Linked DNA regions of Homo sapiens: all the other regions are linked to region 2. Evidence: fine-mapped expression QTL. A gene starts in region 2. Each other region holds a variant in brackets. All regions are shown on one strand. Distances are from middle to middle. Region 1 has its middle 170 kb from the start of FAR2. Region 2 holds the start of FAR2 (fatty acyl-CoA reductase 2). Region 3 has its middle 220 kb from the start of FAR2.

Region 1 (8,189 bases), 170 kb before region 2:
AGTTGACAGTGTCAGCTTGACCTGTAGCCTCTAATCAGCCTGAGAATTATGCCTTCCCTGGTTTTTACCTAGTCTCTTCATTTCTTTTACTGTACATACTTCTGGAAACAGTCCACTTGCCTAGCTTGAAGTACCTACCACTCTGATTTTTCGCAACAACAAATTGAATTCCATAGTTGATTTATCATATCAATATTGCATCATCAAGATATGCTTCAGCATAAAAGGAAGGGTCAAGGAACATAGAGACTTCTAACTGTCATTTTAGTAAATGCATAATAAGGCTAGAAAAAGAGAAGAAATATCTACTCATTTCTTGACCAAGTTTATTAGCTGGTGACTTCAGTTAACATTTAACTCCAGGTTTCTCTTACATTTTTAATGTTTTCTTTCTTTTGTTTTACATTTTTGATGTAAGAAAGAAGACTCCAGTTTTTTTGCACTGTGTGAAATCCAGCTCTAATTATGTCCGTATGACATCATAAATCCACTAAGAATTGGACAGTTTTATTATTTGGGCCTTAAAAGAACACCCAAAATAAAGGTTAATGCTTATATAATGGTAATTATATAAGGACATATCCTCAAAATGAACAAACAGAAAACCCCACATAATACTTAGGATTTTCCCTTCTTCTTATAAATGGGAAAAATTAATTGACATGTCACTAACTTCTAAGAAGGGAGCAAATATTTAAATCCCTGCTTCTTCTTCCATAGGCATAGGCTGCATTGCATTTCCTTGCTGTACTCACTTTTGCCTCTTTCTCTCTGTGACTTTTTCTCTGTATATTCCTCCCTCTTTTCTTCTCCTTCTCTACTCCCATAAATCCATATCTTTTGGCTCTAGGGCATAGTTTTATTGGCTTCTATTTTTCTGCCCTCAATAACAATGCTTCTCTTGTCTCTGTGTACATTATATTCTTGAGATAAAGAGCTTTCTTTGTAAACTTAAAATATATTTACTGTTACAGACAAGAAATATGCTCGATTTATGTATCCTACAGTTATGAAGAAATGTGCATAGTGTTCAGAAACGTAGTTAGAATTTCTCAAATTTCCCCTGTGCTTTTATGATGAAATTTTGTCTATCCTAAAAGCCATCTTTTGTAACAGCCATGGTCCAGCCCTGAAGGATAATACAGGCAAGGAAAAGTTAGAGGTGAATGTACCTAGTTTAATCTGTAAAGAAATCCCCTACCACAGTGTTTCCTTTCCAACACGAGTATTCATGATCAGAGGAGGCAGTGTTGAGGGTTGGATGAATCATAGTCTTTGGTATAGACAGACTAGACTTCAAACATTGGCACTGCTACTTACCAACTCTGAAATCATGGTTGAGATCATTTCTCTTTGCCTCAGTTTTCTTCTAATGCCTATCCTCTAATACTGTGGTGAAGATTAATGAGAAATTGCATGTGCAGTGTCAATACAATGCCTGTTACAGACTATGTGCTTTATGGAGCTGAAATATGATGGAAATTTTTTTTTCATTGATGGTAAAGAGCAACATGAAAACAGGTCATGCTAACTTAAATAGCACAACTTCTACAGGTTAACTTCAAGAGATAGGGTCTTGATTTCAATCTTAGCTGAATTATTTTCATTATTTTGATTATAGGCTCTGGCTTTGGAAGGCCTTACTCCATACAAGAAGTATTTTTTTGAATGAAGACAGTACCTACAGTGGTGACTATTTGGTTAATGGTAAAATACCACAGTCATCATAATGTACTAAGCATACTGGCATCCCAGTAGTGAACATCGGGGGTTCTATTTCATTGTTTCTATAACTTCACATGAAAAGCTAGCTGAGCTCATTGGAAAGCCTTGCTTACTAACCCAGAACGTCATCAATGTACCCCAGAAATCAGCATTATTCCTGTTTTCCAGGTTGTATGGATGCATTTAAGAACCACAGTTGAAGTTATAATGTGGCATCCAACACTTTTCTCATCAGCTCCAGATCCCTCAAGGGTTTGTATTTTTAAAGCTTGAATAGTCCACAAAATCACAAGTACTGATTACAGCTAATCCTTGCTAATCACCAGTGCTTTCATGGAAGTAGTGCTGCTACCCATCCTTGGATGTATTCACTACCATAGTTATTTTTTTCATGTCATGGAGCATTAAATGCTCCATATTTCCTGTCAAAACAAAGTGAACATCTCTTTGCCCCTTTTGGATTTAGCTATGAAATGGGTTCCAAAACAACTCCAGCTTATCACCTAATATTGAACAGATATTTTGGTGAAAACAGTGCTTATTGATTTCACTTCATATGCCCATTGCATTGGACTCAAGCAAAAGTTTGGTAGAGGTTCAGATTGATTAAGGAAGGAAATGCTAATCCAAGAGAACAGAAAAGAAATTATCACTGTCACTACCACTCTCACCATGAAGGCCCTGTTATTCCATCAGCCTTAGCTGACACTCTTTCCATTAAAGCTCTTTTCCAAGAGGGTCCTCATGCATACCTGCAATATAGTCTTTGCAACTGATATCTGTAATATAGTCATGTATCTGCTACACATGATTAGATGCATCTGAATCCCATCAAGAAACCTGATTAAGACTGAAGGTTGGACACTTATATCATTAGTTCCTTTGAAGAAGATGACTGAAGAAAGATATTTCAGACAAAGTTGATCTTTTTTTGATACTCATTGGTTCATTCATACTTGGCAAAAATATAATAAACTCTTCAATTAATAAAGTAGTAGAGAATTCAGCTCAATCTTTCCACTGGTGACAACTGGAAAAGCTGTACAACAAATGTGTTATAAAAGTTTGCCTGAAAGTATCAAAGTGCTAATAAGGTGGTTCTTCAAGGTGCAATAATTACACTTCTCAATTGAAAACATAGAAACCAGAAGAGTGTGAAATAATAAAGAAATAGTTGCCAACCTAAAATTCTATACCCAGAGAAAATAGCCTTTAAGACTAAAATAAAATAAAGCCATTTCAGACAAAAATAATTGTCTCTTGCTCACACACACTAAAGGGTTTCTTAGAGGGAAACCAATTTCCAAAGGAAGCTCAAAGAAGGAAGAAGGAAAGGTAGCAAAGTTAGTAGTAAATACAGTGATCAACATAACTTATTTGACTATCTAATTATAATAATGTTTCATGTGGGTGAAGACATGTAAACTATAAATACATATAATATACATACTAATAAAGGCATGCAAGTCAATAGTGAGGAAAATTAAAGAAAATCACTATGGTTTAAGGGAAAAGAGGTACATGTAAATTAATATTCAATGCATTTAAATCATTAAATGCATATTATAAA[C/T]GCCAGAATGGTTGCAACTATAAGAATGGGGAGATTATGTCATATAAATACTAGCCAAAAGAAAGGTGATATATCAGACAAATTTATTCAATATCAAAAAATGTAGGTTATATAAGAAAAAAGTACTATAAAAGATAATGTTCTTATGATAAAATGTTTAATTCACAAGGAATGTATATATCAATTATAAGTTTTATGCACCAAGGAACATAGCCTCAAAATATATTTTAAACACTTAACAGAAAGTGAAATAGATGAGTTCATAATTATAGTGGGGAGATTTTAACACACTACTCTCAGCAAATAATCCATTAGAATCCATTAGTGGATTAGTGAATAACACAATAAATATTAAATAAATAAACACTGTAAATAAATATAGCAAGCAAAAAAAGCCAGTAAAGAAACTTTAGCATCTGGCTAGGAGCATCTGTGGTGGCTCACCTTTCTACCTATACGTGTGAGTGGGTGACCTGAGAGGAGTACGGTGAGCATATGAGGATGTGACATACTGGCTCACTCCTGAGAACAGGATCCTGTTAGATGGGCATGTGTAAGTTAATTTCAGCAAAATGCTCTGGGCAAGGGTAGAATGGGGTGGGGTGGGTTTAGTTTGCTTTGGAATTCTGGGGGCATGAGGGTATTTTTTAGATTCTAGGGTTTTATCTTGTTTCAAGAGTGGGACCAACCCAAGGGGGAGGACAAGATGTCATCCTTGGAAACCCTACAGGGGACAGTTTTTCCAAGGTGACCTGTCATTGGGGTATGAGTGGCTAGCTGCCACCTTCATGCCTGATTGCCACTGGTTTTTCATTGGCATCTCCCTTGGTTTGTCTCATTCTTCTTGGTTCAGTAGGTTTTAACTGGGGTAACCCTTCTGGTAGGAGTTCCAATTATTTTTGACTAGGGGATGGGGGAGAGTTGACATTTCTGGTCCTATAGGCCCTTTCTGGCCAGGAAGGCATTGGTGCAGGTGAGCCTGGGATGCCCTTGCCACCTGTGGCCAGAGTCTTGTTTTGTATCTGTAAATAAAAAGCTTGTTTGGAAGCAAACAAACAAATGAAAAGGTGTAGAATGTATGGATAACATGATTAACCAGTTTAACTAATTCACTAGAACATTGTGTCCAACCACTACTGAATACACATATTTTTGTGCACATATGGAAAATTAAGAAAAATTGATTGAAATGAGGAGTAACATAAAATATAAATTATATTGCATTCAATTGCTACAAATAAAAACGGAAATTAAATTTTAAAGATGGCATTTGTTATTTTCAAAATACCAAATTCCTAGGAATAAATCTAAATAAAGCCTCATAAGACCTCTACACAGAAATGTATCAAGGAATAGCACAAACATTAAAGTAAGCATAAATAAATAGAAACAAAAGGATGAATAATGTTGCATGTCAATTCTCCCCAAATTGATCTTAATGATTTAGTGGAATTCCCCCAACATCCTAAAGGAGTTTTTTGAATAATTTTGGTGGATCTTGACAAGTTGCTAAAATTTATATCAAAAGTTTAAGAAAGCCAGGGCTATACAAGGCCTAGGCAAGAGGATTGCATGAGCTCAGAAGTTCAAGGCCAGCCTGGACAACATAGCAAGACCTCATCCAAAAAAATCAACCAGGTGTAGTGGCATGTGTTTGTAATCTCAGCTACTCAGTAGGCTGAGTTGGGAAGATCTCTTAAGCCCAGAAGGTCGCCTAAGCCTGGAAGATCGCTTAAGCCCGGATCGAGGCTGCAGTGAGCTGTGATCATGTCACTGCACTGCAGGCTGGGAAACAGAGAACCTCTCTCAAAAAAAAAAAAAATAATAATAATAATAATAATAATAATAATTAAGGACATTAAATAGTAATAGTAATTAAGACAGCATGATATTTTCTCAAGGAATCAAAGATAACCAAGGGAAAAAAAGTAGAGTCTACATATGTGGACTATAGAGTTAAGACAAAGGTGGCACTATACAACCATGGAAAAACGATAATCTTTTTAATAAGTACTGCTGGGACAATTGGATACACGTGGACAAAATGAAACATTCTCTACGTCAGAGTACATGCAAATATGTATTTCAGGTGGATTGTAGATCTTTGTGAAAGGCAAAACAATAACGTTTCTACTGGAGAGTATATTCATTACCTAAGGGAAGGAAAGATTTCATAATCAGGACATAAAAATCATTATCCTTGAAAGAAATTATTAATAAATTGTACTATATTAGAACGAAAAATTCTATTTCTCAAATGACACCATTAAGAAAGTGGGAAAGGCAAGACACTAAGAGAGAGAAGACATTTACAATCCTTAAAACTGACAAAGGGCTCCTATCCGGAAGGTACAGAGAAGTTTTACGCATCAGTAAGATAGCCTATTTGATGAAAAACAGCCAAAGTCATACTTCACAAAGGAGGTTATACAAAGGGCCAATAAACATAAGAAAAAAAGCTCAACGTCACTGTCATCAGGGAAATGCAAATTAAAACCACAATGCGATACCATTACACACTTGCCAGAATGGCTAAAATGAAAAAGACTCACAATAACATTGCTGATGAGGATGTGGAACAACTGGAACTCATTGCTGGTGGAAGTGTGAAGCATATAACCACTTTGGAAAACTGGCAGTATCTGCTAAAACTGAGCATGTTCATACCTCATAATCCAGTAATTCCACTCCAACAGAAATGCAAGGACTTATGAACTAAAATACAAGTACAAGAATATTGATCACAGCACTATTCATCACAGCCCCCAAATAAAAACTGTTCAATGTCCCATTATGGTATATTCATCCCAGAGAAATCTAGTCATCTTTGAAAACAAATGAACTACAGCTTCACACACAGAGTAAATGATCTTAACAAATATATTGTTGAGTAGAAAAAGTCAGATATGAAAGAATATATACTGTATCACATGGTGTATATATGTGCATGTATATATATTATTATATAATATCTATATATTAATTTATAGACATATATATATTAAAACCAGGCAAAACTAAATGAGTAACGTAGTTTTAGTAGTCAGGATACTCACAGAAGAAATGACCAGATGTTTTCTAGATTATCAGATATCTCAAGGTTTCTTGAAGTAATTCAGAAAAATAAATCAATCTTGATCATTGAATGAATAAAAAATACTCTTTCACTTTGATAAAATCTAAAGTAGGTCGATAGATCTTTTCCCCAGAGGGAACTGTGCAAGCTTGGTCAGCAGGCTTAGGAAAAGAAAAGAGTGTGATAATACTTTTGTATCAAAGTATATGGCTCCAATTCTTGATTCTACCTTTTACTAGCTGTGAAATTATGAGCAAGTTACTTGGCTTTCTCTGTGTCTCAATAAATCTGTAAAAAGAGAATGATAACATTAACCTGACAGAATAAGACAAAGATGAATTAATTTATACAGTAAATTAAATGATGAAATGTAGGCAAAATCTGTGAAGCACCTAGGATTTAATAGGTACTTCAAAAGTAAGTGATAGGGCCAGGTGTGGTGGCTCATGCCTGTAATCCCAGCACTTTGGGAAGCCAAGGCAGACGGATCACGAGGTCAGGTGCTTGAGACTCAGCCTGGCCAACACAGTGAAACCCCATCTCTACTAAAAATACAAAAAAAAAAATTAGCCAGGTGTGGTGGCAGGCGCCTGTAGTCCCAGCTACTTGGGGGAGCTGAAGCAGGAGAATTGCTTGAACCCGGGAGGTGGATGTTACAGTGAGCCAAGATTGAGCCACTGCACTCCAACCTAGGCAACAGAGTGAGACTCCATCTGAAAAATAAATAAATAAATAAAGTGATAGAACTGTTATATACACTTGTGTGTTTTAACAGTTGAGTTCATGGAAAGGAAGAGAACTAATATTCTCTGAGTCCATTATGCTTCAGATACTATGTCAACCAGTTTTTACATTTCCATTTAATCCACAAAATAACACTGTTCAGTACAGATAATTCCTAATTGATCATATTAGAGAAGCATATGTTGGCCAGGTTAAGTAATTTGCTCAAGATCAGACAGCTAGTTTTGAAATAAAGGTCTCCCTGCTATAAATAATTTGAATGTCACATATATGGCAGTAAAATTTAACATTTTTTGCAATGTATCTGCCCTTCTGTTTTATATAATCAACTCCTCTCTCCACACTCCCTACTTTTTTCAGGATTAGGAAAATTCTTGGACTCCATTTCTTCACTTGGTGTTACATTTCTTGCCTAATCAGTATCTGAGTAGCGAATCTCTCCCTAACCCTCAATGAGTTCCTTATGGATCTCTACCTACAATTAGATCAACAGGTGAAATTGATAGAAGAAGACATTCTACTAGTGGCTTTTTATATGTTCCCCTCTAGGGAATGAGGGTATATGGCTTTACACCTTAGAGAAGTTACATTTATCTGTCCCTGAGTCACCACTACCCCTCCTGACACACATCTCTTTGTTGTTAGGGGATTGATTTAAATTCACCTCTAAGTTCAGTTGAAAGCTTGAACAATAGTGAAGTGCAAGTATCCCCAGGACCCCACCAAGGAGCCAAATTCAAAGAAACAGAAACCAAGACCAAAAGCCATGGCGTAGAGAGTCCTTTTCATTTCTATGAGATCAAAAGAAATGCAGTATTTTGCTTCTATGAGAAGTAAGGAATGCAAGCTTGAGGGAGCAAACTCTATAAAGTGTTCAGAGCTGTCCCAGTGGTGAGGTAAAAGGGAAAGCAATTATGGCATCCGCTCCTTGGCTGAGGTTGCTCTCCAGAAAAGGCTGCCCGGTCCTCCTGTGGAGAGAGAAAGGAGGAGTGAGCGCTCATATCTTACAAGCATAACCCTAGTGGAGACTGACGCAGAGCTGTAAAAATGAATGCCCTAATTTTGGCTTCTTGA
Region 2 (8,189 bases):
AACCATACAGAAAGACACACACAACGCTCACCAGATTGCCTATAGCCCAAGACTGGCCTCATAAATCCTTTTTTCCATTAATCAAAATGTTACAGAGGATGTAAACAGTGACCTTTACCATTTATGTTACCAGTTTGCACAGGGAGAGACAGGCCAAAAGTCTGACTGGTAAGAACTTTTACTTTTTGCCAGCATGTCAGCCTTCTGGGTTCCCCTCCTCCAAGATCAATTTTAAGCCAAGCAGTTTAAGGTTTGAGGAAACTAATTTTTCCCAGTTTGGGGGATGCATCCGAGGAAAGCGTCCTGTGTTACAGGGACACAATTACCCATCTGTGAAGAGAGGACAGAGGAGGAAAAAGAAAAAAGAAGTTATCTCTTTTTTTTTTTTTTCCAGAGGAGTCCCAGTGATTCAGGAGGTATTCAAGACTCCTGATAGATTGAAAACTATTGGTTACCCATCTAGGAAGAGGGGAACAAGGCGTCCCTAGTCCTTTTTTCTTTCTGCGAAATATCCAGGGTATGTGAGGGAGAGAGAGAAGAGGCCCCCCTTCCTTCTTCCATCTTCATATCCCCAAGTCCCAGTAACCTCAACAGGGTGCTGCCCATGGGTGCCAATGCTGCTTTTCCCCCCATATTAACAGGGAGGCCTAGGTGGTGATAATTACCTGCATTTAGCCATGTGCTGCCTCCTCCCTGTTTTTGGTAAGCTTTGAGTTCCCTAGACCTCATTTATGCCATGGATACTAGCATGACCTCCATCCATGAAATGATAGGGGGCCTAATTGGCAGGAATTCATCATGCTAAGGAAAAGCTGTGGAGCTGCTTCCTCCTCAAACGAGGGAGAGAAAAGAGTGTCTCGTGTTTAGGGGTCTGGGCCTAATAAGATGTCGTCCGAAAGGAAAAGAAACCTACCTCCTGACATGGTGGAGAAAAGGGGGAAAATAAAATAGCTTAAGTGTAGGGTGGGGAGGATGGTTTGGGGCAGGGGAAAAAAAGGAAGAAAAAAACCTCTTGCTTTATGCAAATGGGTTCTTCTAACAGGGAGAAAAACTCTTAATTGTTGAACCCTCTTCTTGGCTCAGCCAGGGGAGGAAGACTTCATGTGGCGGGAGGGGGCAGTGAATGGGAAACGCTGGCCAGCTCTCCAGCCAGCTGTGTGGGGACTTTGGCCTCCGAGACTGCCTTGGGACCCAAGGCTCATTCCTGCCCTGCCTGGCCATTGGACAGAGCATGCGCATGTGGCCAACTTGGCCATGTGCCCCAGCAGGGGGCATGGGGGGGGTGGTCAGGGAGTCATTGCTTGCCTGTGTGTCCCATATGTACACCCCTAACCATTGAGGTGGGGGTGTGGAATGCCTGTAAGAACGAACAGAAATCACGTTGTTCTGAATTGCATATCTGATGACTGGGCCAAAGGCTCACTCTACCTAGTAATATCTGTGCAGCGTGTAATAATACCCTTAACATTATAAAAGAAGAGATAGGCACCGTGACAATCCCCCAAAAAAGAAGGAAAATGCCATAGAAAAGATTGGATTGGAACGAGGCCGACATTCCCAACCCCCAAGAATGATGGAGGGGTGGTGTCGGGTTCCTCTCCAGCATCCTGTCCTCTGTAGCTGTGCCATTCATTCTTAATTGGCTCACCAGAGGTTCCGTGCTGCATCTGCCTTCAGAAAAAGTCTGAGGACAAGAAGGCACAGAAAGGAAAGAGAAAGGTTTGGGACAGTCTTTGTTTACTCTTTCTCCAGGTATCCCAGGCGAGCACGCAAACTGATGCAGGATTTTTTTGTCCTTAGCTCAGCTAGATCTGTGTTCTTGTCTCATAACCAGGAAAAATTAGGCATGCAGACACTCAAAGAGTGAGTGGTGTAGAATTTATTAAGTAAAAGGAAAGCTCTAAGCAAAGAGGGGGTCCTGAAAGCAGGTTCCTAGTTGCCCCCTTTACAGTTGAATACAAGGGGTTTTACATACAAGCTGATAAGGCTGAGTTCCCTATTTGTATAAGGCACAAATTCCTGGTAGCTCCACCCCATTCTTCCAGTGTGCATGTGGGTCCTTAGTCCTCTGAAGGCATGTTTAGGTAAGTCCTCTATGCAAGTTCCCTTATCTGCACAAAACATGGGTTGGAGGTTCTCTGGGGACCCTTCCTTACTGTCTGCCTAAAGCAAGCTGGCTAACTCCTTTCAAAGTTAACATCAATTGGGTGGCTTAAAACACAGAAATTTATTCTCTCATGATTTTGGAGGTTAGCAAACTGAAATTAAGATTGAGGCCATGCTCCCTGTAGGGGTTCCGGGGGAGAATCCTTCTTTGCCCCTTCCAGCTGCTAGTGGCTGTTGGCATTTCTTGGCTTCTCTGGCTTCCACGTGGCTCCAGTTTGTCTCCGCCTTATATTCACATCACCTTCTCCAGTGTGTGTGTATCTCAAATCTCCCTCTGTTTTTATCATGTGAGTATATTTGCCATTGGGTTTAGGACTCATCTGGATAACCCAGGATGATCTCATCTCAACATATTTAACTTAGTTAAATATAGAGTCTTTTTTTCAAATAAGGTCACATTCACAGATTCTGGGGATTTGCCTCAGGACATATCTTTTGGGGCCACTATTCAACCCACTACATTGCCTCTTTTTGTTATTATCTGTTATGGGTGGAACTGCGTTCTTCTCCGCCCCTGCCAGTTTCACATATTGAAGTCCTAACTCCCAGTACTCTAGAATGTGACCTTATTGGGAAATAGGGTTGTTGCAAATTTAATTAGTAAAGTTAAAATGAGGCCATTAAGGTGAGCTCTAAATCATATATGACTGGTATCTTTATAAAGGATAAATTTTGACACAGACATGAACATAGGGAGAATGCCATATGAAGATTATAGGAGACAGGGGTCATGTGTCTACAAGCCAACAAGAAACCACTGGAAGTAGGTAAGCATCATGGAAAATTCTCTCTCAAAGCCCTCATAAGGAACCAACCCTGCAGACATCTTGATCTTGGTCTTCTAGCCTCCAGAATTATGAAATAATACATTTCTATAGTTTAATCCACCCAGTTTATGTGCATCCTTATGACAGCCTTAGCAAACTAATACATTCTACATATATGAATAGCGTTTTAAATGGTGATAATCAAATTGTGGTTTTGTAATCTATAATTAATGTTGTATTTTATCTATGAACATCCCACTGAAAGTATGCTTTTAATTTCCTACTTTATAAACAACTCGGTAATAAATATGCAACTATGTACATGCGGCATTTCTCTTTTATGGATTATCTCCTTTGAATACATTGTAAGACATGGGAATCTAGGTCCAGAACAAGAAAAAATTTCGTTACTGAACACCTTGGGAATGTGTTGCTAAATTGCTTTCCAACAAAAGCGTGATTACAATTTACCTTCCATCTGCTATCTGTTAAGTGATTTCTATACGTTTTCACCAGCATTTGACATTATCATTTGAAGTGCTGTCACACACATTTTGAAGATACATTCAAATTTATTCTTGAGGAGGGGAGGGGTAACGAAAAATACTATAAATTTGGTTGTAACTTTTTTTCTGTCTCTTGCATTCAGGCGGTCACCAGAGGAAATTAGTCAGTGCCTTTAGGCTACACTTAGCTTAACACATTTCATTAAAGAGCCCAGTAGTAGAGAATTCAAGATGGGTGTTATTATTTTAATTTCATGAAATCACTCCTTAATTCTAACTTTCAAAAGTCAAATTTTATTTCTTTAATTGCATGTGGATTGTTATAATGAGGAGAATCAGAACAGCTTATAGGACAATATTTCTTTTCTATTTTTCTTAACACACCATATTTATTTGGAAATTTACCTCCTACATTGTCCAGGGAATTAGGATGGGCGTTGGCCGTTTTTCAGCACTTCCTGGTTGAGGCCAAGGGCTCCACTCACGTGCCTGTCCATCCCTCTACAAGGCTTCCCTGGCAGCTTGTTTTTCCGTTTAAAATTTAACAATGACCAAATCCCAAAAAAGCTACCAGGCTAAGAAATGAAACATCTTTTTTTCTTTTAAGTCCGGAGAAGTGCTGCTGAGCACAGCTGGCTCACTGCTGTTTCTGCGGCCCCCATCTCTGATCCTTTCTAGTCTCCTACCCACCCCCACCCCACCATAGGCAGGCAGAGCCGGATTTCTGCCCTTCAAACCCCGAGTGTGAGGAAGCCTCACCTGAAGTCCTCGCATCACCCTCCACCCTCACGCCCTTGGGTTTTAAAAAGCCACTGCGTTCGTGGGTCACTGCAGGGCGCCTCCGCAATGTCTTTAGCAGATACAAGAGCATCCCTCCCACGGGATGTGCAGTGTAGTCAAGCTGAGTAAACTGGGATTTTTGGCTGCCTTTTCTGCTAGGGTGGGTGGGGAAAGGTATGTCCCCCAAGCGTTCAGTTCAGACTAGAACCTTTGAATCTCTCTCCTGTCTCGGTCTCTCCCTCCACCCCCCTACCCCGCCACCTTTCACGGTGTGGGAGTTCTCCTTTCCCACACCAGAGAGGGGCGCCTTTCTAGCTTCCTTGTCCCCTCGCCCACTGATTAAAAAATGGAGAAAAAAACCAACCCCAAAACCCAAAACAAAACAAAACAAAAGCCCCAAACAAACAAACAAACCAAACCCACCGAAACCAAAACCAACTCCCCTCCCCCAAACCACACAAATGCGGGAGTCATAGCCAGTGGATCCGCTGGTGCTGAACGAATGGAAGCGCGGGGCGGGCCTGCGCGCGCGGCCGCCCTGCCCACGATGCTGTCGCCCCCGCGACCTGTAGGGCCTTCGCTGGCCCCTCACCCTCCTCCCGCCCCGGGCTGAGGCTGCCGCCGGTTTCGCGCCCAGTGCCGAGGCAGCGGCGGAGCCGGGGAAGGTCGGAGGGAGGGTGGTTTCCTCCCGCCCCACACCCAGTCTCCGAGCCGGATATATAGAGTGTCACGTTTGGGAGCCGAAAGACTGGAGCCGTTTCCTTGTGGCTGGAGCGCTTCCCGTAGCCTCGGGGAAGGAGCAGGATTTAGAGGACCACTAGTTGGACCCCATCCTCGTGCTGGAGGAACAGGTATTCCAGGGTCCCCAGCCCTGGCGCTCGCAGAGCCCACGCGCTCCAAAAGCAGAGACCGGACTGGGGGTGGCCCAGGAGGGAGGGCTCGGCTGGGTTCGCAGGGCGGGGCGGTTCCCGGCGGGACCTCGAGGAGGGTGGGTGTGAGGCCGGGTGGGAGGAGAGAAGCATTTGCGGAGGCTCTGCCCCCTGAAGCTGCCCCCGGCTGCACCCCAATCGTCACCGGCCGTTTACGCGCGGTTGGCGTCGGCGGAGCCCGCCAAGGTGGGGCGCGCGGGGGTTGCAAAGGGCAGAAAGCCGGGAAGGACCCAGCAAGGTTAATGTGGGGGGCCGCGCCTTGGGGACTGGGGACCCGGGAAGAGAGGCGCGGGGCCGAGTCCCACCCAGGCCTCCTGGGCCCTTGGGGCTATTCCTGGAGAGAGCGCGAAAATGCCGGGGCCACGTGTGAAACGGCAGCGGTCCTAGGTCCCCTCCCGGTGCCTGGGACCGCCAGGGCGCCCAGTCCTGGTCCCCGGAGCAGGTCCTCGCCAGCCCCCAGCCCCACCCCAGGCTGCGCACGTCCCTACCCTCCCACCTGGGCCTCGCCGGGGTCGTGGCTGACGCGCGCTGGGGCGACTGGTGAGGCCAGGGCGGGCTTTGCCCCTGTAGGAAGTTTTAGACATCTTCCTGCGGCCTGGGCATCCTGGGGGTGTGCAGGGGAGCAGGTGCCAGCAGACTCCCAACTGGAGTAGATGGCTTGCAGGAAGGCTGCTCAACACTCCTAGCAAGTAGAATTACCCGCGGGGCAGTCTCAGTCTATTAAAACAATTCATGCCCAATCGTATCCTACAAACCAGAGGAAGGCGTCTCACCTGCCAGCGGTGGCACCATTTCTTCCACGGTTGAGTTATGTGGTGTGAGCAACCAAGGTTATCGCTGGATCTGCAAGAGTTTGGCCACTCGTTGAATCACGTAAAGTGCCCCCATTATGTGATGAGCAAGGACAGAGTAGGGTCAGAAAAGTGACCAGGGAATTCAGGTAGATCGTGCTTTTCTGTTTGCTAGGTTGAGAGAAATTTGACACTGGGCAAATGGAAATTTGAGAATTACCCCGTGGTTTCAATTACCCATCTCTGTATATTCCCATTTATAAGAGCTGGAGATTTGACTGACAGGTGTAGTTAGTCCAAAATTTAGAAAGGGGGGCAAGGGACTAAATAAAAACTTAAGGCAGCCACCTAAACTGCAAGAGCAGGCATTTCCGCAGAAGGGATATTTGTGTGTGAGACTTCTAGGAGATGGGCATGAGGTTTTTACCAGGCCGACGCGTGTGTCAATATTTCATCGGTAGTATTTCTCAGGATCCACGTCTTTACAGTACTCTTTTCCTAATTCTGAGGGCTGCTTCTGCCCCTGCTGTATTAACAAATTCCTCACTTACTCCTATTTCTAACATTGGGCTATAATTATCTATAAAAGAGATGTAAATCACCATGAGTTGGTAAATCATACAGCTATTAGAGAAATTAAAGTAAATGAAAATATGCTTTCCTTAAAGGAAGCTAAAATGTGACATCCAGTTACAGAGGAAGAGGGAGAGGTTGAAAATAAATAAAATGGCTTATATTAGGGTATCACTTTGGGGTTTATAAAGCATATGATCATCTTGACCATCTCACCATCTGCTTTCCTATCTCCTGAGGAAGAAGCATTCTTGAGTGCATTTGTTTCTGGCAACGTCTCATCAGTGTTAAGAATTCCTTGATTTTGCATTAATTCCCATGCACTCATGAAAACTTACTTATTCACAAATATAGCCTTGTGAAGGATCATGCACAGTGACCACCAGCATGCTTGTCCCTACCAATATATTCTGACATTGTAGGCTCTGTTGGAACATGTATTACCTTTGAAGAGGGTAACAGACCAATTTGAGAATCTGATGAAAGCTATGGAATATGAAAGACAAATGCATACATATTAACACAAAATTCCACCTACAATTTCAGGAGTTCATGGCCTCCTTGATGCCCAGCCTCCTACATTCTAGATGTCCAGAGGCTCCAGGCAGGGCCAGCTTCATGGAAATACAAAACTGCAACCGCACAGGGCCTTGCACTTGGAAGGGCCCTGCGTTTGGTAATGTTCTGCTATCACCGTCTGCTGGCTTAATAATTTTCAAAGAGGCTCTGGATCTTCATTTTGAACTGGGTCCTACAAATTATATCCTGACCCCAGGCTGACAAACTTGGTCTAAAACTAACCAAATAACAGTGTTTGAACAGCAATCCCACATTTACGGTGAGTTCTCCAGTACAAACCTGAAATTTATCTGCTGCTCACTTAGGTGCTCTTGGACATGTCATTCAGTCTTCCTACATTTCAGTTTCCTCATTGACAAAATAAAGACAACAGATGACACCTTCTACTTTCTTTATTTTCAAGGTTGTACTATCTCTAAGTAAAAAGAGGTAATAATTGTAAAAAATGTCTACTTGCTTTGAATAGTTCTTTTCTAAAAAATATGCTGTTGTTGAAGGGTTAAACTTTGCCCTCCATTTTTCAGAAGTAGCTTGAGGAAGGTTGATTGAGCACACTGAAAAGACTGTAGAACCTTTCTGACCCTTATAGTTTGGTGGAAAATAAAACAAAAAGTAGGCAAGTATTCAGTGTGTTAAATACTCCTGAAATATCATTATTTGGACAAAATTAGAATTTTCAACTAAAGGTGCAGAATAACTTCTTGGATCCCAAAGGTAGTTATTGAATTAAATTAATGTTTGGGTCTAATTCATCCAAACGTCGAACGGTGAGAAAATGAGCCAATGACTGAAATTTTTTGAGGGGGTAATCCTTTTTGTTTCATTTAATTTAAAAAATCTGTAAGTTCAAAAGTTTGATCAAGTCATCCTTTAAAATATCCTAGGAAATGCCAAATCAATTTAAAGTACACCTAGTCTCTTGCCAAATACACCTAGTGACCTTTTGTAACTCTGGTGCCTCTTAAAGAGGAACTGAGAAAACAGGCAAGTCCTCTGTCCCCAGACTCCTCCCTTAACTACTCTCTGACCTCAAAACTTATCTTTATTCCAGCTGTCCTTGTTAGCATGATGGCAATACACTCAGAACCACTGAGGAAT
Region 3 (8,189 bases), 220 kb before region 2:
GGGCTTTGCTATGAGTTCCCCAGTGATGTCCCCGAAGGGACAGTGCCTTTCTTCCTGCATGCTGCACAAGTTATAGCAGCCTTGATCTCCAAAGCACTTCCAGGATTACTGTGTTGGTGGCTGCCTGGTGGCAGAGAAGTTCTCAGGAAAAGCCACAGTTGTGAGTGCCTGAAGAGCAGTGTCTGTGGATACAGTGAAGGGATTTGGAAATAGGAAAATTGTGCAGGCAGAGGTGGGAGAGAAAAACAGAGGGTACCAAGTGGTAGCTGACAGGACTTAACTGAACACACATGAGATACCCATAGGGATTCCCAGACATAAATGAGGGGGCTTTACCTCTACAAAAAGTTGGAGAACTATAATAAGAAATATCTTCAATTGTTAGGGAATCCCACAAGTGTTGCTGTTCTATGAGGGACTTCATTATAGGAACGTGAGCTAACTCCCACGCTCAGAGGACAGTCAGAGATGGTGATGACAATGACAGCAAGGGGAAAGTGGAGCATTTCCTCCCCTGACCCCATCAAAGATAATGCTCTTATGCCTGTGTATGGAGTGGAGAGGGGATGGAAACTTTGAGGCGTGGACACTTTGGGTAGTTGGAGAAGCTGATGGAATTTGTTCCTTAGAGTCAGGGCAGAAGACCCCCATTGCTGTGAATGCAGAGGGATGCATCTCACACTCATACCTGTGGAGTACACAACCCTTGTTATCCTCCTTCATTCTGGGTTGACCTATGAGTGCCCTGCACGATACTCATTTTCACAGCCTTACCTTCATAAAAAATAGCACGTATCATTTACTTCCTAGGGTACACATTTTAGAGCCTGCCTTATATCAACAGTGACTAAGCTAAATTCAGAGGCAGCTAATTGCATGACCTTGGGCAACTCACTTATACCAGTGCTACTCTCACATAAGAATCACTTGGAGATCTCCTTAAACTGTTAATGCCAACCAAGAGTTCTGGGGAAAAGCCTATCCTTGCACCATTTCTTTTAGGTACCCAGGCAATGCCTTTGCTGTTGCTGCTGCTGGTGGTGGACCACACTTTGAATAGCAAGGACCTAATCTCTTTGAGCTCAGTTTCCTCAATGGTAAAACAAAGATAATAATGTTTAAGTTATTATGAGTCAAAATTAAATTGAATAAGATGATGCACTTATCACAGTGCCTAGCAACTGTTTGGTGTTCTGTAATAGTATAAAATATGTTAATACCATGTTAGTTCCGTTTCATGGGAAAAACCACCAGGATATACCATTATCCTTTGATGCGTCTTTATATAAATATTCTGGAACAAATATTCTATTGCAAATTTTCTATCTTACATTTCCAAACATTGCACTATTTCCTTTAAGTGGTTATTTTTGTTGTTTATACAGCCTCTTCCAGTGCAATGAAAAATTATGATCAGTAATAGAATAATAATGTTATTTACTTTTGACATAATAGGGTATATTAATGTTCCTTGTATTCAGACCTCTGGACAAGCTGCAAAAGAAGTCAGGCCATTATTCTTCCCTGGTGGCCTTACCCCTATTCTGGTTTTGTTAGCATGCTAAAATGTTTATTTTGACTTACTTTCTAGAGTTACCTTTTAAGTGTGGAATAACTTAATTATGGATCCCTCAATACTAGTAACAAACTGCTATGAGATTTATGGGTTGTTTTAGACTGAAAGCAAAAACCATAATTGTGCATGTTCTTCCAAATAAGATGATGAAAAACTTTTGACTTTTGTTTATCTTAAAATAGGTTAAAACTTTCTTTAGTACCCATATTAAAGTTTTCCAAACTTGTTTCCCTTTTGAAATTTTATAAAGAAATAATTTTTTAAAAAATTTCAGCATATCTGTACATTTACATTTAATAGTTATTTGACTTATTTCAAGGGATTTTTTTCTTTAATTTCACATCAAATTTTATATATGAGGATAGGTGGAGTATGCCTGAGTAATAACTACTTTAAAATATATGTTTCTTTTAAATCTTGCTGGTATTAAGACAACTGGTGTCTACTTATTCTCCAGGATCTATAAAGCCATGTTCAAGGGTCTTTGTAGGTATAGAGGAAACAAGGAAAACCCCATATGACTCTTTCTCTAGCACTGCAAATCATACAGGTATGTGAAAATAAGGTGATTATTTTTGTAGCCCATAGATTCTCATCTTCCCTGTGGTGGCTTAAGAATTGTCACCATTGTATGTTTCCTAAGAAGTTTTTCATCATCATCTTAGAATGATGATTGCTGTCATTCACTGAATTCTCATCAGATAGTTTTCAGTGCTGGCTATACATTAGGATTACCTACGACCTTTAAAAATTACAACTGTCTGGGCCCTATCCCAGATTGATCAAGTCAGAATCACTGAGGCTTGGGCATTTGTATTTTTTTGTAAGTGTCTCAGGTGATTTTGGTGAACAACAAGGTTTGAAAAACACCCTAATTAGTAGAATCATGTTATTCAAAATTACACATGTTAATTACATATTAGTAAGATGAGATTCATTTTATTATGTAATCATGGTAACAGTTTTGCAAAATCAGCATATTTGGTCACTTTTAAAGCTTTAAGCTTAGAAAGATTAGTTAGCCCAATCAAGGTCACAAAGCCAGGACAAGTGGTAGATTCATGAATCCAAGTCTGTCTGATTCTCAAGTCCGTGCTAGTTCCACTAGGCCGTATTACAAGAAGACAAAAAAAGAAAAAAGGAATGAAAATGAAATGAAAATAAATGATAAAGCAGATATTACTGAATGGCATTATAACAATAGTACATATTGCCTGCCTTCCAGAAAATTTTATTGCAACTTAGGCCCAGGGATACCTAAAATAATCAACATTTAGGAAGAAAGGAACATATGAGATATCCAGAGAAGATGATTTTAGGCATGATAGTAATCATGAAAGATATGTTAAAAAATCAAAAAAGAATGATAGGTAGGACCGGGTGTGGCAGCTCATGTCTCTAATCCCAGCACTTTGGGAGGCCGAGGTGGGTGGGTCCCCTGAGTTCAGGAGTTTGAGACCAGCCTAGTCAACATGGCAAAACCCCGTCTTTACTAACAATTCAAAAATTAGCCAGGAGTAGTGGTGTACACCTGTAATCCCAGCTACTTGGGAGGCTGAGGCAGGAGAATCGCTTGAACCTGGGAGGCACAGGGTGCAGTGAGCCAAGATCGGGCCACTGCACTCCAGCCTGGGTGACAAAGCAAGACTTTGTCTCAAAAAAAAAAAAAAAAAAAAGAATGATAGGTAATAGCACCTTCTGATGCTATAGCAAATATAGTCAAACCCATCTGAAGTGGCTTAATATCCCAAAGTTTCCCAAGAAGACATCAAGATAATGAACGGTTGAAGGCAAACCCTAGCCTAGTCTATGTGTAACACAGGAAGATGGTGTAGTCTACACTAGAGGTCAAAATATCAAGAAAGTGAAAATGAACCATATTTAGCATTATGTTGGGAAGTCAACACCACTACACACATGTATTTAAAATTTGGCATTTCAAATGCCTGACTCTGAAGTTGTCCAATATTCAAAGAGCAAAGCTAGCTATTGCCTTTAGAAACAACACTTTTAAAGCTGATGCTTAGTTGACTTCACTGTGGTCTCATTTTTGGCCATAATTAATCTCATTTGATAAGCCAAGGACTGATTGATTCTTCTAATGGTTACCAAGTGAAATACATGAGAGCTTGAAATAATGCC[G/A]CTAGGATCATTTAAGCATGCTGTTGACACTAAATGAGTCTTCACCCAGTTACCAGGAAACTGATTTAAGACTAAGATTACATCTAGATGAACTCTAACAATTGAATTGCTATGAAAAGGACCCCACCAAGATCATTAAGTCAAACATTCTTTTTCTCTCCAACATCAGTTTCCTGGTTAAAAAAAAAAAAAAGAAGAAGAAAGAAAGAAAGAAAAAACAATCCACATTGACTAAAGCTGAACTAAGGTTAACATTTGTTGGACAACTATCAAGGACATAAATTTCTAAGAAGACTCATAAATATAATAATAGAAAAGATGACTGGCCAGGTGCAGTGGTTCACGCCTATAAAATCCCAGCACTTTGGGTGGCCGAGGCGGTCAGATCACGAGGTCAGGAGTTCAAGACCAGCCTGGCCAAAATAGTGAAATCCCCTCTCTACTAAAAATACAAAAATTGGCCAAGTGTGGTGGCATGCACCTGTAGTCTCAGCTACTCAGGAGGCTGAGGCAGGAGAATCGCTTGAACCAGGGAGGTAGAGGTTGCAGTGAGCCGAGACCACACCATTACCATTGCACTGCAGCCTGGGTGACAGAGAAAAAAAAATTGAACATATGTGAACTCCTTATAGACAGGAACCATATGTGTCCCATGAGATAAGCTATGAGAACTCCTGTATCATCAAATCAAGAGACTCAATATCTAATGACCAGGAATCCCAAAAAAGGACCAGAAAAATAGAAGACAGTAAATTATGTTTTAAAAATAGGAGAAAGCTTCCCAGAACAAAATAACATGAGATTCCAGCTAAATGAGTGGAAAATACCAACAGCCAAGCACATAACAACATGCATTATAGAATACCTGGGACAAAAAGAAGATCCTAAAGACTTTCAGAGAAAGGAATGAGCTATAAAGAAAGGAGAAAGTAGAAAATAAGCATGGCTTATTGTCCAGCAAAACTGATAGATGAAAGATGGCAAGGCAAGGCACTAAACATTGTCGGGAAAGTTTTAAACTTTAGTTAAATTATTTTATCTTAAAATATTTGATACTTCAACTATCAATCAAATATGTGGATACAAGTGAAATCATTTTCAGACATGGAAGTTTGCAAATTACTTACCTCCCATGCATTTTTTTTCTCAAGAGACTTTTAGTGGATATGCTTTACTAAAATGAAAGAATAATCCATGAAAAAGGAAAATATCAGAACCAGCAAAAGAGGAAATTCAACAATAGAGGGAAGGAAAGGCTGGGTGAGCTCACTCGCTCCCTTTGCTTTATAGGGTAGGGTTATAGCTGTCAGGGAGGTTGGGTTATGCTTCTATATAGACCATAGCTAATGCTCTGTGGCCTCCATTATTTATCTTGGTAGCACATTCCTTACCCTGAGAAACACTCAGTAGTTTGATAAACTATAAGAAACATCAATTTTGTCTAAATGGTCCATAAATAATGCAAGTCAACTCAACTTAAGGGCAGATGTACTTTAGAAACTGCTTGGTAGTGCAGTTAATCTGACTTTAACCTGGGAAACACCACCATTTCATATCCCTCAACCATTTACTGAAAGATAAAATGTTGTGGTGGTTTTTCTAAGGCAGTCTTGTCAAAATAGGGTTCAGAACTGATGAGCTTAGCATCACCTGGGACACTTATTAATAATATAGATGATCCAATACTTGTGTACTACCTTACGTACTTGTGATACAAGATGATCTGAGCTCATCTTGGATTTTTCCTGCCCCAATTTTAGAATCAGCCCCTTCTCCAAGTCATCTATATTTTAAAGAGAACATTTCAGGACCTCTACCATTGTAACAAATCAGCAGTGCATAGCTGGAGGTTTCAGAAGAGAGATCTGTTATAAACTCAGGCACCTGTGTTTCTCCTAAATTAGAAATTACAGTCCTGGATGAATCACTAACATTTACTTCAAATCCACTTCCAGAGCCCATCCCAATTACATGCCTCTACATGGAATGGTTACATTGTGGTGATGGAGGCCTTTTCCTGGGTCTGTGTTCCATCAGTTTTGAGGAGAGCATCCAAAATATTTCTGTCGTTCCACACCTCACCTGCATGGGCGGAGTGAGAATCTGATATTGTGGGCATATGTGTACTCCTGCCGCGCACACCTGCACCTGCAGAGATCCCACCTCATTTATATGGGTGAATGAAACCCAGGGCAGTTTGTGTCTATTATTTCACTATCATGGAGATTGGCACTGTAACTTAAAAACCTTGGCACTCTCAAGTGTGAATAGATTCATGTAACATTAGTCAGTCTCCTTTTTGTTTATAAATCATGATAGTATCTATTTCAATCTCTTCCACTTGCATACTGCCAAGACTTATTCAACTGATACGCGTTAGTCAGGCCGAGTACTAAATGAATTAACATTGTAGTAACTTTAGGACATTCAATGCGGTGTGTTTTATTTTAGATAAACAAACTTGCCTATAAACATCCCAAAGTTAAAACATGTTTTTAAAACTAAAATTTGCTAATTAGATGCTCTTTTGTCTGTAGGTAATTTCTTCTGAGTAAATATGCATTCATTGTATTTGAAAATATATGGGGTTGAAAATATTCATTCTCAGGTCCCCTTTTTGTTGGTTTTATCAGTACTTTATTTCATAGAGAAAAGAGATTTATATCTAGTTGCTTGTGTCTCAAATTTGGGGTGTCAAGTAACTTATTTATATTTTTAGCTGTGCCCTGAGTCTTCACTGTTGATGGCTGTTTGATAAATAACATCAAGAAGACCCATCCCTACTCTGCTGTCTTAAAGTATGTATGCAAAGGTGATTCCACAAGCTAGTAAGACTAGTAGATGTTCTTATGTGGCTCAGTAGGGGTTCTCATTTCTCAAAAACAAATTTTTAGAATGTGGTTACCATGTTTTGATGTTTAGAATACGATGTAAAGAGCTTTAATAGACTAACTTCCAGCATTCGGCTTGACATAAAATCACAGTAGTTCAAAGAACCTTCAAATCACGCTGTTGAACTATATTGTAATAAAAAAGGTGTCACAGTTGGGACCTGAGATTTTTCTGTGAGGGACCATGTCTTCCTGACCACACTGGTTTCAGCACAGAGTGGGGCTATTATTAACCAATCAACATAATTCTGATTCAGCCCCCACCGTCAGAAGAGGGGAAGCCTAGGCCAGGAGCAGCAACGGTGGCATATACCTGTAATCCCAGCACCTTGGGAGGCTGAGGCAGGAGGTTCACTTGAGCCCCAGGAGTTTAAGGCAGGCCTGGGAAACATGGTAAGACCATGTTTCTACCAAAAAAAAAAAAATTATAAGTTATCCAGGTGTGGTGGCACATGCCTGAAGTCCTAGCTACTCAGGTGGCTGAGGTGGAAGGATCATTTGAGCCCAGGAGTTCTAGGCTGCAGTGAGCTACGATGGTACCCCTCACTCCAGCCTGGATGACAGAGCAAGACCCCATTTCTTTAAAAAAAAAATAGGGAAACCTAACCCAACTCTAATTCTTCCTCATGGGTCCCAGAATGCCCTAAGCTGGGTTGCTTGTCATCCTAATATTATTCTCACAATCACCAGTCAATAGTCTTCTCTTTTTCCACTCTTGAAATGAATGTCTTAGATTTCTGCTTTCACAACCTGCATTTCTTCTCCCCTGGGAGAGCCTTCTTCTGTTTCTGGCCTGGGTTGTTTGTATACCCAGACCTTGCTCCCTAGATGCCCCCGCCCCTCCCTTCTCACTGTTGTTTTGTCAAGATACTCTTTGGCTGCTAATATTGGCTCTGTGATGTAGAGCCCAATCTGGACATTGTCTTTATAGGTCTTATTTTGGGATATTCATCAATTTGTTCAACAAATATTTATTGAGACACTACTATGAGCAAGCCATTGTTCTAGGGGTCTAAATATTCAGCATAGAAAAGAAAAGCATGAAACCTGTTTCATGGATATTACGTTCTCGTAGGAAGTAAGCAATAAGTAAATAAACACACCGTTATGATTTAGGTAATAATAAATATTTTGAATAAAACTAAAGCAATAGAGACTATCTGGTGTGGGAGAGTAAAAGTGGGAAATTATTTTGGATAAGGTGAATCAGGAAAGGCCTCTATAAGGACGTAACATTTAAGCAGAAACTTGGATGAAATGAGGAAGGAAGCCAGGTGCATATCTAGGGCAGAGCCTGCCAGACAGCAGGGAAAGCCAGTGCAGAGGCCCAGAGGCTGTGGTAGGTTTGGTTTGCTAGAGAAACAGCAAGAAGGTCACAGTAGCTGGAGCAGAAAGGGGGAGACAGAGCAGGAGGAGATGGAGTTGGTGAGGAAGGAGAGCACTTTGTGTAGGCTTTTGTTCCCTTGGCAGAATTTCAGCCTTATTTGGAGAACAGTGGAAATCGGCCAGAGGATTCTGAAGAGTGGAATAATGTGGTCTTCATAGAGCCAGTTGTGGCTTGAAGCCTTCTGTCACTTCTC

The links.
Region 1: its variant is fine-mapped to the expression of FAR2 in whole blood (TOPMed, PIP above 0.99).
Region 3: its variant is fine-mapped to the expression of FAR2 in cerebellar hemisphere (GTEx, PIP above 0.99). The same link has a PIP of 0.9 or more in cerebellum.

The regions. Positions count from the first base shown.
Region 1 is chr12:28,974,887-28,983,075 of GRCh38, forward strand. No RefSeq gene overlaps it. Among named protein-coding and RNA genes, the nearest start is that of FAR2, 170 kb to the right of the region's middle. The variant C/T (reference allele first, on the strand shown) is at 3,296.
Region 2 is chr12:29,144,338-29,152,526 of GRCh38, forward strand. FAR2 (fatty acyl-CoA reductase 2) reads left to right here and starts at 4,941. Exons shown (of 12, transcript NM_001271783.2): 1 at 4,941-5,070. RefSeq lists an enhancer at 1,366-1,867 and silencers at 4,789-4,848, 5,159-5,308.
Region 3 is chr12:28,928,354-28,936,542 of GRCh38, forward strand. No RefSeq gene overlaps it. Among named protein-coding and RNA genes, the nearest start is that of FAR2, 220 kb to the right of the region's middle. The variant G/A (reference allele first, on the strand shown) is at 3,719.